2 linked regions of the Homo sapiens genome follow. The protein of the gene in region 1 interacts with the protein of each later gene in a biochemical or structural test. Each region holds a gene or a part of one and is shown in the gene's direction. Other genes may lie near its edges. The genes, in order: CREB3L3 and CREB1.

Region 1 (3,821 bases):
TTCCTCAGACTCCCGAGTAGCTGGGACTACAGATGCCCGCCACCACGCCCAGCTACTTTTTGTATTTTTAGAAGAAATGGGGTTTCATCATGTTGGCCAGGCGGATCTCGAACTCCTGACCTCAAGTGATTCGCCCTCCTCGGCCTCCCAAAGTGCTGGGATTACAGGCAGGAGCCACTGCACCTGGCACTGGCTGGGATTTTTATGCTATGTTACTGCGTTTGAGCCTCAGCAGCCCCGGGAGGAAGAAGCAGTAACTCATCTTGGAGAAGGGAAGGACACCTAAGGCCCAAAGAGGGTCACTGGTTTCCCTGGGGCCACACACTAATCTAAAAAGAGTGAGCACTTCCTAATTCCTACTACCCCTCCCTGTCCACCCCAGCAGGTCCTGCCAAACCCCGACTCTGACGACTTCCTCAGCTCCATCCTGGGCTCTGGAGACTCACTGCCCAGCTCCCCACTCTGGTCCCCCGAAGGCAGTGATAGTGGCATCTCCGAAGACCTCCCCTCCGACCCCCAGGACACCCCTCCACGCAGCGGACCAGCCACCTCCCCCGCCGGCTGCCATCCTGCCCAGCCTGGCAAGGGGCCCTGCCTCTCCTATCATCCTGGCAACTCTTGCTCCACCACAACCCCAGGGCCAGTGATCCAAGTACCTGAAGCCTCTGTGACCATAGACCTGGGTGAGTCCTGCTGTGTCTCTGCCCACCGCCCTCACCTTGTTCCAGGGCCCTTCCTGTAAGTGAGGAAATGGAGGCCCAGAGAGGGCTGGCATCTTGTCCAAGGTCACACAGCAATTTGGAGCTGGGCCCAGACTCAAACTCAGGACACGTGTCTCCCTTGGCTAGGTGTTTCCATGCTTTCACGTGGATGCTATTGGGAGCCCATTTTCCAGATCGTGAAACAGTCCTGTCAGGTTGAGCAATGAGCTAAAACCACAGAGCTAGGATGCAACCCCGGCAGGTGGCTCAGGCACCAGGCATGGTGCTGACAAGCACAGCCCAAAGTCAGGGTCTTGCCTTCTACGTGTCTGTACCCCGTGCCTGGTTCCTAGTAGATTTTTTTTTATTTTTTATTTATTTTTATTTTTTGAGACAGAGTTTCACTCTGTCACCCAGGCTGGAGTAAAGTGGCGCGATCTCGGCTCACTGCAACCTCTGCCTTCCAGGTTCAAGCAATTCACCTGCCTCAGCCTCCTGAGTAGCTGGGATCACAAGCATATGCCACCATGCCCAGCTAATATTTATTTTTTAGTAGAGACGAGGTTTCACCATGTTGGCCAGGCTGGTCTTGAACTCCTGAGCTCAGGTGATCTGCCCACCTCAGCCTCCCAAAGTGCTGAGATTACAGGTGTGAGCCGCTCCACCCAGCCTGTAGATGCTCAATAAAAGTGCATGAGGTTACCAGGTCCTAGGTTCCAGGGTGCTCCTCCTAGACGTGGGGAACAGCAGATCAGTAATGATTTACTCTATTGATTAAGCATTCCCGGCGGGCCAGGCAGAGCCCTGGCTGGAGATACTTGGCCTCTGGGTGGCCTTTGTCCCTTGACCCTTGCTATGAGCTCTTCTTGGTCCCATTGGAGAGTTGACAAAACTGAGGCTCAGGCCCGGAGCGGTGACTCATGCCTGTAATCCCAGCACTTTGGGAGGCTGAGGCAGGCGGATCACTTGAGGTTAGGACTTCAAGACCAGCCTGGCCAACATGGTGAAACCCCATCTCTACTAAAAATACAAAATTAGCCGGGCATGGTGGGGGCCACCTGTAGTCCCAGCTACTCAGGAGCCTGAGGCAGGAGAATCACCTGAACCCGGGAGGCGGAGGTTGCAGTGAGCTGAGATCATGCCACTGCACTCCATCCTGGCTGACAGAGCCAGACTCTGTCTCGAAAAAAAGCCAAAAACAAAAAATGCTGGGCACAGTGGTTCACGCCTGTAATCCCAGCACTTTGGGAGGCCGAAGCGAGCGGATCACGAGGTCAAGAGATCGAGACCATCCTGGCCAACATGGTGAAACCTCTGTCTCTACTAAAAATACAAAAATTAGCTGGGTGTGGTGGCAGGCGCCTGTAGTCTCAGCTACTCGGGAGGCTAAGGCAGGAGAATCTCTTGAACCTGGGAGGTGGAGGTTGCGGTGAGCCAAGATTGCCACACTGCTCTCCAGCCTGGCGACAGAGCGAGACTCCGTCTCAAAAAAAAAAAAAAAAAAAAATCTGAGGCTCAGAGAGGTGAAGTCACTTACTCAAGGTCACACAGCCCTGCCCAACCAGGATTAGAACCAAGGGTTACCTGACCCAAAGTTTGTGTGCTGGGACAGCATGCCTACTGCATGCCGGCTACCAGGAGGGGACAACCAGAGGTGAATCAGACCTCGTCCCTGCCCCTTGGGTGAGATAACGCCTGGCTGGCTGCAAATCTAGCCTGTAATTCTGTGTGATAACAGCCACTCCCTTTTGAATCAGCCGGTGTCTCCTGACAATGTCCTGTGTCTTCCTCAGCCTTGTGGGACGGACAGAACCAAGCCCTGTTGAATTTGGGTCCCCATCTTTTTTTTTTTTTTGAGATGGAGTCTCGCTGTGTCACCCAGGCTGGAGGGCAGTGCCACATTCTCAGCTCACTGTAACGTCCACCACCCGGGTTCAAGTGATTCTCCTGCCTCAGCCTCCCGAGCAGCTGGGATTACAGGTGCACGCCACCAGGCCCGGCTAATTTTTGTATTTTTAATAGAGATGGGATTTCACCATGTTGGCCAGGCTGGTCTTGAACTCCTAACCTCAGATGATCCGCCTGCCTTGGCCTCCCAAAGTGCTGGGAATACAGGCGTGAGCCACCATGACTGGCTGGGTTCCCATCTTATAGCAGAGGGGAGACCGAGTCACTAGTGAGGGCTGCCCCCTTCAACTCAGGCCTTGGGGACTCCAAACTCTGGCAGAAGTCATATGAATGTTGGGATTAATCATGGGAGACTTGGTGGAGGAGGCGGTTAGAGGCTGGAAGCTCAGGACTCCCCCCGTCTGACACTCTCCCTGTCTCCGTCCCCACCTGCCCTGGTCAGAAATGTGGAGCCCAGGAGGAAGGATCTGTGCTGAGAAGCCGGCTGATCCGGTGGACCTGTCCCCACGATGCAATCTCACCGTGAAAGACCTCCTCCTTTCGGGCAGCAGTGGGGACCTGGTGAGCACCCCCACACCCTCCCATGGGGCGTTGGAGCTGGGAGGGCTGCTCGGGTTCGAGGAGCCTAAATATCCCCGTTTCAGAGACTGGAAAACTGAGTCACAGAAAGGCGTGGAATTTGCCCACAGTTAGAGACCATTCCAGTCCTGGGCTCACTGTCGCCTGGGCTGGGGTGTCTTCCTCTGTAGTACTTAGTAGTAACAATAGCAACAACAACTAAAAGCTAAAACTGGCTGAGTGTGGTGGTTCACACCTGTAATCCCAGCACTTTGGGAGGCCAAGGCAGGCAGATCGCTTGAGCTCAGGAGTTTGAGACCAGCCTGGGCAACATGGTGAAACCCCATCTATACAAAAAATACAAAAATTAGCCTGGCATGGTGGCACATGCCTGTGGTCCCAGCTACTCGGGAGGCTGAGGTGGAAGGATCGCTTGAGCCCAGGAGGTCAAGGCTGCAGTGAGCTGTGATTGTACCACTGCACTCCAGCCTGGCCAACAGACCAGGACTGTCTCAACAATAACAACAACAAAAAGAACAAAGCTAAAACTGAGGCTGCACCTGCTATATGCCAGGCGCTCTTTATTTATCATCTTAAAAAAGTTTTTTTTGAGACAGGATCTCACTCTATCGCCCAGGCTGGAGTGCAGTGGCG
Region 2 (3,821 bases), on another chromosome or scaffold:
AAGGATCACAGAGTGGAACCTCTTCAGAACCAAATAACTTCAGAAGGAATTTAACATTTTTCCACTTAAAAAAATTGTTAACAGGCATTATTATTATAAATTAGAATGCAGTTCATAGAGTGCATTTCTATTGTAGAAGTTGAATATGGGTTTCCTGAGGAGCAAGTTACTTGAATATATTAGACCCTTCTTGGTGATGTTATTTGCTGTAACTTCTCCTAGATTATTTTACAAATTATTCTACATTGGATGTAATGTTTTAAAAGTCTTATATGGTATTAAACTTGTAACAATAAAATCCATTGGCTTTTAGTTGCCATTACCCAGGGAGGAGCAATACAGCTGGCTAACAATGGTACCGATGGGGTACAGGGCCTGCAAACATTAACCATGACCAATGCAGCAGCCACTCAGCCGGGTACTACCATTCTACAGTATGCACAGACCACTGATGGACAGCAGATCTTAGTGCCCAGCAACCAAGTTGTTGTTCAAGGTAAGGGAATTCAGAATTCACAGGTGTGGTAAATTCTTCAAAATACTAAAATTTTATAAACTCACAGAAAAAGTAAGTATCATATTGCAAACCACCATTCAAATGTAGTTAACATTTCTTCAATATTGATAGTATTTTTCATGAACTCTTCCATTATTCCAATTGGACCAAAATGTCATGGCATAAAAACAACTATTTTCAGTTTTTAAAATATTGCATCTACCTTTAACATCTTTTGGGGTAGAAGAAACAGGATAGGTTAGAAGGAAAGACCAGGAAATCAGGAGTTAGAAAAGATGGATTCTGTATCTAACTGCATGGATCTGCTATGAGGCCTTGAGTAAAAGTCAGCTGCTCTGAGCCTCAGGAAAGTGTTTTGTTTTTTGTTGTTGTTGTTTTTGTTTTTTCATCTGTAAAATAAGAGTTGCACTGAATCTCTGGAAACAATCTTCAGAAGTTCAGGATTCTGTTTCTCTGCTTCCCCCCCCCCCCCCAAAAGAAATTTAAATCTTCTGAGATCATCAGTTTTTATTATTATTATTATTATTTTTTTCTAGAGACATGGTCTCACTGTGTTGCCCAGGCTAGTCTTGAACTCCGGGCCTCAAGCAATCCTCCTTTCTCAGGCTCCCAAAGTGTTGGGATGCCTCTGCACTTGACTCAGTTTTTGTTTCAAATGAAAACATTATATTCCACAGGATCTTATACCAATATGCAAATCTGCTGCTCTTTAGAGAAAAAGTAGTTGTTAAATTCTCGACAAATTATAGAAGTTGCTTTTTTTGGCTTTTTTTTTTTTTTTTTTAGTTTTTTTTTTCTGTTTATTTCAGGAATCTTTATGGATAGCAGTTAACCATTTTTCTTTGGATTTGTTTGAATATTTCAAGAATATAGTTAATGCCAGGTTAGAAATTTGCTGATTGAGGAAATAATAATAAATTTGTTTCTGAAAATATTTTTATAAATAATAATGCATTTTGCCTGTGTTAGGTAATGACAGTTGTATCCTTTCACCATGGATAATTGAATAATCCTGAAACACCAACTGGAGAGAGTCATAACTTATTTAAAGAGCCCTAATGTTTACAGAATATATTCTGTTATTAAACGAGTATTTGAAAAAGATACTATTTTGCTTATTGATGAGAGTAAAACACCTTTTCACTTTACATGCAGGTACTCAAAAATTGTAAAGCAGGATGTCAGTGAATTTGAATTCTGAACGTCAGTTTGAAGATGGTAACATGTTTAGTATATAAATCTTTTCCACTCAAACCATACATTTTAATTGATATTAATAATTAATATGAATAATTTTATAAAGACCTTCAAATTTTTTTAAGTAACATTAGGTTCCTTATTAGGAGAGCATATTATTACGCTGTTTTTAGAAGCAGTTTGACAAATAGTGATTGTGTTTGTTTTTACAAATGGTGAATCAGTTAGAAAAATAAAACTTCAGTTTATTTAGCCATTATCATTTACATTAAAACAATATGTTTTTCAAATAATATAATTGGCATCAAGTGATACACTTTTTCATACTTTTAGTTTTGTTTTAATTCAAAATTTATAATAGTTGACCATAATGCTTTATCTTCTTTTTCATTTTGCTATTTTATGAAAAATCATGGTCGTTTTTATGTCGTGGCAAGAGTCTACTTGAAATTTTTTAATATGAATTTACCAATATCAAAGGAAGACACTGAGGACTATACTCTATCTAGGAAGATCATCCAAGCTGTGCCCCACTTACCTTTTAGACTTAAGGTTGGTAAGCATGTTAACAACAGAATAGAACTGCATTCAAATGAAAAATAAAATGTAAGATCCAGCGGACATAGGTTACTGTAATAAATACATTACATTGGGAATTATTTCTTAGTAGTGGCGCGAAGAGTGCTGATTCTTTCAACGCTTTAGCCAGAATCATCTTTTCTTTTTTGTTTCCCTTTTAGTCCAAAATACATGCTTAGATTGATGATTGATACACATAATTGAATCAAGTTGCAATGTTTCTGTCTTACACCATGCTCACTGTTTTTTTCAGCTGCCTCTGGAGACGTACAAACATACCAGATTCGCACAGCACCCACTAGCACTATTGCCCCTGGAGTTGTTATGGCATCCTCCCCAGCACTTCCTACACAGCCTGCTGAAGAAGCAGCACGAAAGAGAGAGGTCCGTCTAATGAAGAACAGGTACAAATACTGCATTTACTTAGATTGTTATGTGTTAAGTGTGTCTTCACATTCTGCTGGATGTGTATCTTTACATCTACTGGTAATAGGATCTTTGCATTGAATTTTTTTTTTCCAGCAGAATTAATGGATCTTGCTAAATTTTCTTTATTTAATAAGCTGCACTTATAAGATAGCTGTATGATTATGGGTCAATCTTTGATCGTGGAGTAGTTTTCTTTCATGCAGTTTCCCCACAGGAGATTTAATGCACAACTTCCCTATGTCTGCACTCCAACCAGTTAGCCAGGTTATTTAAAAATGGTTTCTTTTCATGTATAGTATTGTTCAAGAAGATCAAGAGTTTCATATATGTATATTAACTGTGTGTTAAATTTTATCTATATTAAATTTACTTGATATAAAGTAAATGTATGGTGGCCAGTTCATGTTTTAATGAATAATATCTTTACTCAAAATAATAACATTTTAACACCTAAAGATTCTTCAAAAATATGTTAATTCTAAGAATACCATGTTACGGACAAAAATCTTAAAATATAGTCTTCAAAAAAATACTACATTCAAAATCTGTGAAATGTTGGTAAAGCAATTCTCAGAAAGTAACTTTATTGCTGTAAATGATTTTGCCGTCAAAAACAATAAAAATAAGTTACTAAATATTGGTTTAGAACTTTCATATAGAAGTGACCGAGACAAACAAAAGAAAATGAAAATAAGGTTATGTAAAGGTTTAAAAAGTTTGAAATTAGTGAAAGTATCTCACTGTTCATCCCAGGATACTTCAAACACTGATAAAGTGAAAGAAGCAGGGCTTCCAAGTCCTAGCCCTATCCCTCCATTTTGGGAGAAGGTATTAACCTTCTGTACCTCAGTTTTGTAAAATGGGATTCCAGCACACACCCAAAGTATTGTTGTAAGAGTCAAGTAAGAGAATCCTTTGAAAGCACTTTGTAACTGTAGTGCTCTGTTGAAATGGGTTTGTGTGTGTGTGTGCAATTTCACAGCTCAGATCAGCTTTTTTGTTCCTAAAATATTCTTAGCTGTCACAATGTTAGTAAATTATATCTAAACTCTGAGAAATGGCAGAGATTTTTCTGGGATATTAGAAAAAGAGTTGGAAA

Evidence for each region.
Region 2: the proteins of CREB3L3 (region 1) and CREB1 interact in a test that uses a peptide from one of them, tested with the Homo sapiens proteins (one large-scale study listed by IntAct).

Annotation. Positions count from the first base shown.
Region 1 is NC_000019.10:4,156,613-4,160,433, forward strand, and holds part of CREB3L3 (cyclic AMP-responsive element-binding protein 3-like protein 3), read left to right. Parts: intron 1-382; coding exon 383-683; intron 684-3,051; coding exon 3,052-3,170; intron 3,171-3,821. UniProt on the Homo sapiens protein: Transcription factor that may act during endoplasmic reticulum stress by activating unfolded protein response target genes. Activated in response to cAMP stimulation. In vitro, binds to the cAMP response element (CRE) and box-B element.
Region 2 is NC_000002.12:207,574,959-207,578,779, forward strand, and holds part of CREB1 (cyclic AMP-responsive element-binding protein 1), read left to right. Parts: intron 1-313; coding exon 314-496; intron 497-1,672; coding exon of another isoform or gene 1,673-1,689; exon of another isoform or gene 1,690-1,695; coding exon of another isoform or gene 1,696-1,735; exon of another isoform or gene 1,736-1,967; intron 1,968-2,151; exon of another isoform or gene 2,152-2,266; intron 2,267-2,546; coding exon 2,547-2,697; intron 2,698-3,821.